Regions from separate parts of the Homo sapiens genome. Here region 2 is linked to region 1. Evidence: fine-mapped expression QTL. A gene starts in region 1. The other region holds a variant in brackets. All regions are shown on one strand. Distances are from middle to middle. Region 1 holds the start of MKLN1 (muskelin 1). Region 2 overlaps MKLN1 (muskelin 1).

Region 1 (5,382 bases):
ATTTTAGGGCAAAGGTAAGTAAAGTCAACCCCTTTCCTACATCTTCTGTCACACAGAGAAGTAATATCCTTGCTTGCTTATAGAAGTTCAGAGCCAAGAGTTTTATAATTTAGGCATGGCACACACCAACCCAGCAGACACAATATTCTCCAACTCCAGCTCCATAATACTCAACTATACTCCTTCAAAGAAAAAAGCTTAGATTACTCTTCTAATACTTTACTTTAAATACAAATTATACTGCATTTGTCAATAGAATGTCATAAGGATTAAACAAGATATAGTAAGTGGAAGTGTATGAAAGTTACGTATGTATTAAATACTATTTTATGTATGTACTTGAGAAAATTGCAGCAATGTATTTCTCCAATCTCAAATTGTTGCTTTCTAACTCCAAAACTAGTGTTCTGCCCACTGCAAACCAGGGGCCAGAGTAACAAGACACAAAAGATTAAAGTTGCCATCCCACTAAATCATTTCCTGCTTGAAATGTACTTTCTTAAAATGTCTATACAACAGATAACGCGGATGGTACTTGTGTTATCCAAGCCTCAGGCCTACATCAAAAATTTAAGGAGTGACGTCCTGGAAATACGCTAATTCAAGACCAGAAAAATGTCTCTACAGTTAGATCAAACAATGCCACACCAATTCCCAACTGTCCATAATCCTAGCCTGGGTATAGAAAAAAGCTGAATAACTTCAGATCCAAGAACAAGATAGCCCAGAATATCAGAGGTCAAGTACATAGGGCCACATTTCAACTCCAACTACATGGCTGGACTGTTTATCTGGCTCACTCTCAAATTCAAAGTTGGGTTTCAGCATCAATCAGGGATATGGCCATGAATAGGCTACGCAGGCCAGATCAAACCACAGGTCACTTGGCACCCTTCATTGGGCCAGATCCTACTGAATGCCAACCCTTGACCTGGTGAATAAAATGGGAGGCTGGCAGTCATGACAGATTCTTCCAGTTGCAGCTCCATTTTGAGATTCTTCATTGATATAACCAGTGAAATCAAATTTGGATAAATGTGAAGAATTTCTCAAATACAGATGGAAAACTTACTTGAGTATGCTTCACAGATCTAGTCACTTTTTTGTTTAGTAAAATACTCAGTAAAATATATTATTCATTAATTTGTTTCGTTCATAAAATCGTTTCGGTCCTGTGAGATGGTTAGAGGGACAACTAGCACTTTTCTTCAGGATCTGCACAGATCTTAACCCTTTACTAAGCCAGTTCCTCCACTAGCATGTAAAATTGGAGTTAGATCTGCTCCTCCTTTCAAAGATAAGCCAAAGATAAATAAGATACTATGTAAGAGTATTTTCAGCATTTCAGAAGGAATTTGCTAGAGAAAAAAACACCACCAACAAAAACCTAACAATGCAACTGAATTTTTTTAACACCTAAATCAGGGATCAAGACAAAGCCGGTGTTGAAAATCAAATTCATTAAAGCCAGATGTTTCTATGTTTGAGTTTCCGGACTGGGAAACGTGTCTGTGTCCATACAAACCCATCTTCTAATGAGCCGTAATACTGAAATTCTTCGGTAACGTCCCTCCTTCCCACTCCCTATCTTTTTCAGAACTTCCAGGCATTAAAGACAACGTCTGCCAATCCTACAAGTTCTCCCCGCCTGCTAGGATTCAGATGGATTCCACAACTTTTCAGCCTTCCGTGACTTTTAACACTACTCTAGAGCTAATCACTTTTAATGACCCCACTCTGGAATAGACACTCCTCGGCTTTACACTTTGTCCCGGCAGCAATCGACTGAACTGTCCCCCGACGCCGACCACCTCGGACGACCTCAGACATTCGGGGTAGTTTGCCCGCGGGCAGGGCCCCGCCAACTCCGATTCCTGCCCCAGAGCCGTCCGCCCCCCAAGCCCTCCTCAACCTCAACCCCCAAATCCCAAGCGCAGAACCGCTGGGCTTCCGGTTCTCCTGTGCGCGCCCCGGATCCGCCACACACCTCGCCCCTTCTCCCTGGGCTCGCTCTCCGGACCCTAACCCCTTCCCGAGCGAGGCCGAGCAACGCTCTCAGCAGCTGAACTAAGACTCCGGAGGCCGCACGTCCCCCTCAGCAGGCCCCGCCTGGGCCTCTCGGCTCGGCTGCCCTCCATTGCACCCCTGGCCCAACCGTGCTGACGCGGAAGGGTGGGGCAGCACGAGCTCAAGGCCCGGCACTTACTCGGGAAGGTAGGTGGAGGAAAAGGAGCTCCACTTGTGTAGCGCGTAGGGGAGAAGCCGGCACTCGGGCGCCGCAGCGACAGCTCCGCCAGCCGCCATCTTGTCAGCACCGTAGCGGCCGCCACCGACCGCTGGCAGCGAACGGGAGGAGGGGAGGGGGCGTGGCCTGCTCTTAAAGGGGCCGCCGCCCTCCCCGGCCGCCCGCGCTCCCCGCCCCGCATCGTTACCCGAGCCCAGCGCCGGGCCAATGTCCTATCTCAGGGTTTCCCACGTCGCTCGCTCCTTGACGGCTGACCGACACTGGGTCTGAGGTGTAAGCGCTTTCCAGGCCCTTCCCTGGGGCTTGGAGGGGAATGGCGCAAAGGACTTTTCTTACAAGCAGAGGTAAGGAAAAGCCGAGATGATTACGAACAGAAACACGTTGTAGTTATGGAGCAGGAAGGGAAAATAAGAAGACCAAGTTGGAAAAGGGACGCCTGTGCGCTTTTGGAAGCCACCGCCCTCGCCAGTTTATAAGTCCTTTACGGAAACAACACTGAAGGGAGCTGGAGGGCAGTAGCTAATGTGCTGTCCTCCTGGAGTGGTCCTGGTTTTAAATGTCTTGTCCCCGCCTTCCAGAGTCAGATGGAGACAGGAAAAGGAAATGGTCCCGTGTCCTCCTACCCTGTTTGGTTTGCAGTCTGTGATGCCCTTCATTGTAAACATTTCTTGTGAGCCGCATCCTACTAATCTTGTGGCATTGGTTTGCTCGGGAATGACGTTCACCCACAGACCTGAAAAGTCCTTACAGAGTTGGGAAGCTGCGTGTCATCATTTTTTCAGTTGGCAAATCTGCCCACTTTGAACTGACATAATTGTAGCCTAAAAGTTCAGAGAGAGAGTAGTTCAGGAAAAAGACTATTCCTTCTTCTTAGAGGGAACAGCAGCCCTGAAAACTATGTGGACATCATACCAGCTTCTTACAACAAAAGGTGCACTTGGTCTAAATTATCTGGCAGCTCTAGATAACGTTCTCATCAAGTACCTGTTTGTTGTAGTTATGCATATTTATTCCTTGGCTTAGCCACTGCAGTTACCAAAGAGTATGTCGCTTATTGTCTAAGAGGTTGGACTCCTGAAAGCCTGGACAGTGTCATCATCTTCACCTGAAGAGTGGAAAAATTCAAGCAAAGAGTTTCTCAGGAAATGACCAAGTGAGTCAAAACACCTCAATAATTGTATTCTCTTCCCGTTGTAATCATTAACCTGCCGAAATTCCCTCCAGTCCTTTCCTGACTTCCTGTTTCTATAGATGGAAATTTTAATAGTGGGCTCTACTAGGATATCAAATCAAAAAAGCCAGATAGAAAGGCCAGGCCCGGCACGGTGGCTCACACCTGTAATCCCAGCACGTTGGGAGGCTGAGGTGGGTGGATCACCTGAGGTCAGGAGTTCGAAACCAGCGTGGCCAACATGGTGAAACCCCGTCTCTACTAAAAATACAAAAGTTAGCTGCGTGTGGTGACATACACCTATAATCTCAGCTACTTGGGAGGCCGAGGCACAAGAATCACTTGAACCCAGGAGGCAGAGGTTGCAGTGAGCCAAGATCACACCACTGCACTCCAGCCTGGGCAACAGAGTGAAATTCTGTCTCAGAAAAACAAATAAAATACAATAAAATAAAAAATTACATGTGCTTTCTGTGTTGCAGCAGGTTGGAAAAGCATGTGTTCCTTAAGGGAATGCTGTAACTGTAGTGACTTGGGTCGGGAGCTGCCAGAGACAGTGGGAAAGGGCCAGAGAATGTTAGCCCCAGAGATGATATAGTGGTTATCTTTGAAGAAAATAGACACTTTAAAGGGGAGGAATTAACTCACTCCAATTCCTTTGGGCCCCAGATTTTATAATTCCACTTCTTACCTTAATGTAAGTCAAGTCCTTGTTCTTTTCCAGACATAGTTCCTGAGCAATCTTTTTTAAAAACACATGTTAATTAGTTCTTCTTAAGCTTAAATCCTTTTGGTGACTTTCAATACCCTTCTAAACTGTTTAACAGAGGCCCTTCATAACCTGCCTTGATTTTTCTCTCCAGCTTCCTCACCACCACCCCCCCCCCACTTTTCTCCTTTGCGCTTTTGACATCTGCCCACTAACTAGCACACTGAATTTGTTCCCATAGAGTCCTTGTTCTCTCTAGCCTCCGGAGCTTGCTCTAAGCCAGGCATGGAATATTCTTTCCCATTCTTTACCTGGCTAACTCCAGCTCATCCTGTAGACTGTTTGGTCCTGGAAATTTTTTTGGTTTTTTTTTTTTGAGACAGAATCTCACTCTGACTCTGTCACCCAGGATGGAGTGCAGTCACATGAACATGACTCACTGCAGCCTTGACCTCCTGGGTTTAAAGGATCATGCTGCCTCAGCCTCCCATGTAGGTGGGACCACAGGCAGACATCACCACACCAAGCTACTTTTTAAATTTTTTTGTAGACACAGGGTTTCACTCTGTTGCCCAGGCTGGTCTTGAACTCCTGGGCTCAAGCGATCCTCCTGCCTCGGCCTGGCCTCCCAAAGTGCTGGGATTACAGGTATGAGCCACTGCGTCTGGCCGAAAATCTTTCTTCAACACCTGCTCTGGGATTAGGTGACAGTTTTCTTCATTTTTTTTTTCCTATGCAAGCTAACACAGGATAGGTAACATTTTTTACATTTCTCTTAGCACTCTAAGTTTCCCTCTTTATCTTAGCACACATCACAATATATTTTAATTTTCTCTTTTTTCCCCTTTCTTTCTCTCTAAATGATAGCTCCCATGAAGATAAGAGTCATACATATCTTGTTCACAGTTGTATCCTCAGTCCTGTTGATGTGTCTAGCAAATAAAGATGTTCAGTAAATATTTATCAAAGAGTGAATGAATAATGCTAAAAGAGAACTTTAATTAGAGACTTCTGAGTTGCAAAGGAAAAAAAAAATGCCAGCACTTCTCAGACTACAAACGTGTATCCCTGAGGTATAATTGCTACTCAGAAGGTAAAGACCCAGGATAGCATGGCTTTCCTGCATCACAAATTTTATAAATGGTAAAATAATTTAAAGCATTCCTATGTTAACATACAGACAGCTATATTATGATACCAAGACGAAAATTTGTTTAAATGTTAAGAAAAGAACTTTATCTGAGGAATGCAAATCCT
Region 2 (5,382 bases), 150 kb before region 1:
ATGACTTAGAGAGATTCAATAATCTTAAGGTTATTACTATTTTTGTTCTTCATCTACCTCTTTTACACAGAAAGAGATTCAGTAATTCAGTGAAGTCTCACAGCTAGGGAGGGAAGAGATGGAATGTGGAACCCATGTCTGTCTGACTCCAAAGCCCTTTAATTTTTATTAACTCACACTCATTAAGTGCTTAAGTTGTAGGGCAATGTACTAAGCTCATTTAACTCTCAAAGGCACATCTTTTATTTTTATTTACTATTTACCTATGAGGAAATTGAAACTTACACTATCATTAGACGAATGGTTAAATTATGGTAGATCCCTATTATGAATAATTATGTATCACTTCATAAGAATACAACTGATCTAGTGTAGCTTCATAAAAACGTCTACAAGCCACATCATTAACTTAAAAAAACTATGCTGCAGAATATGTTTTTACATTATATAATAAATTAAAACAGCCCATACAAACCTATATATTTATATGAGTGTATGCATGCGTATATACAGTTGATCTTGATCATTTACAGATTCCATATTTGTGAATTTGCCTGTTTGCTAAAATTCATGTGTAACCCCCAAACCAATACTTGTGGTATTTCTGTGGTCATTGCAGACATGTGCAAAGTGGCAAAATATTTGAGTTACCATATGCACACGTCCCCAGCTGAAGCTGAACTCTGTGATCTCTGCTGCTTTCTAGTTTCAGCTCTTACTATCCACAACAGCCCTTTCACCATCTGTTTGGTGCCACATTTTTGTGTTTTTGGTGGCTTCACTGTTTAAAATGGCCCCCAAATGTAGTGCCAAAGTGCTGTCTGGCATTCCTAAGTGCAAAAAGGCCTTATGGGGAAAAATATGCACATTAGATAAGCTTGGTTCAGGTATGAGTTAGAGTGATGTTGACCATGAACTTAATGTTAGTGAATCAACAATATATATTAAATGAGGAATCTTTAAACAGAAACACACATAATACGTGGTTATATATTAATCAGTAGATAAAATGTTGTGACCAGAGGCTTGTAGGAACCTAACTCTGTACTCTTTGAATAATGAGAACCAACTGCATCTATGTCTGTGTATATGGTTGTGTGTGTGTAAAGATGTATTACGTATAAGTGATTATACTTGAGGGTAAAATACAGAGATTGAGGAAAGTTGTTTAAGGAGAATTCTAAGCTTTATATGTAATCAATGTTTTTTTCTAAAAATAAATTAAAAAGGGGTGGGGATCTAGGAAACTCATCAACAGTACCACAACTACTTAAATGGCACTGCTAGGACAAAAAGGTGATGATATTGATTCTAAACCTCATGCTCCTAATCACTATGTTTATCTTACTTTATTTTCATAAATAAAGTAAAATGGAAAGAGGAAGTAACCATTTGAGCAGTGGAAACTGGTAAAGCTCAGTGAGAGGTAGCATATTTAGTGGTTTAGAAAAGGCGCTCTGAAGCCATACTGACAGGGTTTTAATCCTGGTTTGCCATTCACTAGCACTATGCCTGGGCAAGTTAGTTTAGCCTCTCTGTAACCTAGTTTCTTCATATACAAAAGGGGATCATACAGTAGCTACTTCATAGGGCTACTGTGGGGATAATCATGCGTTAAGACATGCAAAGTGCTTAGAAGAGCACTTGGCCCCACAGTAAGTGCTCAATAAATATTAATTAGCTATCAGCATATCACTAGTAGTATGACTGATGACAATGACTGCTCTAAAAAGAAAGTGACCTATTAGGAGTAATTTTTTGTTTTTAGAGATGGAGTCTTGCTACATTGCCCAGGCTGGATTCAAACTCCTGGGCTCAAGAGATTCTTCCATCTCACACCACCATGCCTGGCTAGGAATATACTTTTAACTTAACATCCTACACGTAGCTGGATTTTCCTACTTGTGGTAAAGGAGAAATAACATGAATTCTCATTTTTTTCCTAGCATACACATTATTAAATGTACACTTCTTATTTCTAACACTAAACTTTATATTTGGACTGTAAACTTCTAAAAAGAGTTGTGAGGACCAAAAAAGGACAAACCTGGGCAATACAGTGAGATCTCATCTCTACAAAAAATGTAAAAAAGGAAAAAAAAATTAGCTCAGCATGGTTGTGCATGCCAGCAGTCCCAGCTACTCGGGAGGCTGAGGCAGAAGGATTGCTTGAGCCCAGGAAGTCCAGGCTGCAGTGAGCCATGACTGCACCACTGCACTCCAGCCTAAGTATCAGAGCAAGATCCTGTCTGAATGAATGAATGAATAAATAAATAAATAGGCAACATGCTTTACAGACCAGATTTTTCCTACTTGTCACATACCCTGCTGAAAATAAGTTTAATTGCTCCAATTCATACTTTCTAGAAATAAGATATAGCTCTTAAACTTAGCAAAGTGACTGAGTTCAACCTTAAAAGTGCCTATAGCCACCAGAAGCTCTAAAATCAAGATCCTTGGAGATTTTCTCCGAGATCACTCATTTTTCCAAAACTAAGATAATGTCACCTTCCATCTTTCTGATTCTTTAAAATTTTACATACAATATTAATACTTTTATTTAATTCTCACTAAGGGATGAACATAAATTGGATTATTTCTGGAGGAAGTCATTCAGAAAGTTCGGCTGAGGTTTTTTTTTTTTTTTTTTTGCAGACCTTAGAAAATGAAATATTCATTTATACAATGAAAGGTACAGTAAATAACCCATTTTATTTCTATTCTAATTGGCACAAAGATAGAACAGTCTGACAGAAAATTAATAAGAACAAGAACCAGGAACTCTAAATAGGCATGAAACCTTATGAAAAGTACTTCTTGTTTATAAATACTAAATCAAATTTCTCATTATTAAAATTAGCATACAATCTGAATTTGCTCCTTATCCAAATTCACCAGTGTTACAAAGGTGACTTTTTTAAAAAAATAGAGACAAGATCCTGCTATGTTACTCTGGTTAATCTTGAACTCTCGGGCTCAAGATGATCATCTCACCTCGGCCTCCAAAAGTGTTGAGATTACAAGCATGAGTTATCGCACCTGGCTAGAAGATTAAATTTTTAAGGCAGTCAATAGTAATGGTACCCTGAATGGAGCATTTACTGCTTTACTGTGATAACTATCTTGCAGAATTATTTCATTTAATTCTCTCAGCAATTTGAGGTAAGTATTCCCATTACCTCCATTTTACAGATAAAGAAACTGATAATTAGAAAGTTTAAATAACTTGCTCAAGATCACTTTTAAAAGAGATCCTGACTCTCAACCACCATCTCACATTCCAACCTCCTAATCACTAGGCTATATAATACCTCCCCTCAGACAAGACAGGAAACAACATCCCACAGGAATTTCCCCTGCTTGTATTTTTCTCTTTTTGTGTTTGTATTGTTCTCAGTATATCT[G/A]AGGTTTGTTTAGAATCCAAATAAAACAAACTATTCCTGACAAAATATATTAGTTGGCAGTGAATAGGTCAGAGTCAAAAGAAAGGAGTTAAGCTGAAGGTAAAATATTTGCTGACACCACCCTAATTGATATATTTAAATTGCTGCCAAGAAATTCTTGTTCTAAAGGCTAAAAATAAGTCAGTTAGAGATAGTTTAGTGCTATGCACTAATAAATAAAATAATGGGCCTGGGCTGTGGTATCAGACATAAGGCACATAATCATTTAAACAGAATATATGCCAGACCCCCAATTCATGTATCAGTACATCTGTTTCAAATGCTAGAATTCAGAAGGGCATGAACTTTCCAAAATAATGTTTACACCTAGGTTCTCCAGCTCACAGACTGGGGATTTCTAGTAGCCTAAGGTCTTCAACTCGAGTGTATGAATAGTGGTAAATCATTATCTAAATTCTTAGGAGAACCTTCTGGAGTCACGTTTATAGCAGTCTGCTCAGTCTAGTCCTGAGGAATCCTACATATTCTGGAGTTAGAACTTAGGACTGGAGTTGCCTTGATCAGTCGAGAAGCCTCAATCACTCGCTATGGATAAAGGGCAAGACCTCAAGAACACCTCTATTTTTTCATCCCAGTGAAAAGCACCAGAATTATATATACTCTTTTTTCTTTGAGGTACAGTTCACTTTCAAGAGATAAAAGGTCAAATAATGAAGAAACTAAATTGATATCCCAAAGTGTTATTTTATTCCAAACATAAAAAATAGTATTTATATTACATACAATGGAAAATTTCAATACTATTGCTCAACTCTAAGGCAAATAATAACTGCACCAGCATCAATGGGATTAATATGCATTCACTGACCAGAGGAAAGCTGGGAATTTCCATACTTCAAGACGATTATCTTGGTAAAAAATGAAGCTATCATAAGTTATCCTGATGAAAATGCCCTTGAAAATTCACCCAAGTAAAGGTCTGGGTTCTAGAGACCACCCACTTTATTACAGTCTTGGTATTTTTTTTTTTTTTTTTTTTTGAGATGGAGTCTTCCTCTGTCGCCCAGGCTGGAGTGCAATGGCACGATCTTGGCTCACTGCAACCTCCCCCTCCTGGGTTCAAGCAATTCTGCCTCAGCCTCCCGAGTAGTTGGGATTACAGGCGTGAGCCACCGTGCCCGGCTGATTTATTTATTTATTTATTTATTTAAATTTATTATTATTATTATTTTTTGAGACGGAGTCTCACTCTGTCGCCCAGGCTGGAGTGCAGTGGCGCAATCTCGGCTCACTGCGAGCTCTGCCTCCTGGGTTACCGCCATTCTCCTGCCTCAGCCTCCTGAGTAGCTGGGACTACAGGCGCCCGCCACCACACCCTGCTAATTTTTTGGTATTTTTAGTAGAGATGGGGTTTCACTGTGTTAGCCAGGATGGTCTCGATCTCCTGACCTCGTGATCCTCCTGCCTCAGCCTCCCAAAGTGCTGGGATTACAGGCATGAGCCACCACGCCCGGCCTATTTTTTATTTTTAAAGACAGTCTTTCTCTCTGTCACCCAGGCTGGAGTGCAGTGGCATGATCTTGGCTGACTGCAGCCTCTACCTCCTGGGCTCAAGTGATCCTCCCACTTCAACCTCCTAGGTAGCTAGGACTATGGGCGCACACCACTACACCTGGCTAATTAAAAATTTTTTTTTGTAGAGACGAGGTCTTACTATGTTGCCCAGGCTTGGCTCAAACTCCTGGTGGGCTCAAACATCAGCATCCCAAAGTGCTACGATTATAGGTGTGAGCCACTGTGCCCGGCCTACAGTCTAGTTAATAATTCATTAATACTAAAAGAGAGTATTACTAAATTAAGACTAAAGTGTTTGAGAAAAACTTGAGTTTCAACCAGAAGTTATCTTGAACAATTAAGATAACAAAACTCCCATTTTCAGGAAAGAGATAATCTATCTTCTGTGCTCCCAAAACATTGC

Evidence for each region. PIP is the estimated chance that this variant, and not a neighbour inherited with it, causes the effect. A credible set is the group of variants that fine-mapping cannot tell apart.
Region 2: its variant is the best candidate, but not a certain one, in a credible set for the expression of MKLN1 in whole blood (INTERVAL, PIP 0.84).

The regions. Positions count from the first base shown.
Region 1 is chr7:131,324,822-131,330,203 of GRCh38, reverse strand. It overlaps MKLN1 (muskelin 1), which reads right to left and starts at 2,328. Exons shown (of 18, transcript NM_013255.5): 1 at 2,207-2,328. The coding sequence starts at 2,304. MKLN1-AS (MKLN1 antisense RNA) reads left to right here and starts at 2,425. Exons shown (of 6, transcript NR_125364.1): 1 at 2,425-2,589; 2 at 3,269-3,398. RefSeq lists enhancers at 1,410-1,986, 1,993-2,292, 1,987-2,563 and a silencer at 2,343-2,502.
Region 2 is chr7:131,479,083-131,484,464 of GRCh38, reverse strand. All of the region lies in intron 17 of MKLN1 (muskelin 1), which reads right to left. Among named protein-coding and RNA genes, the nearest start is that of PODXL, 75 kb to the left of the region's middle. The variant G/A (reference allele first, on the strand shown) is at 3,405.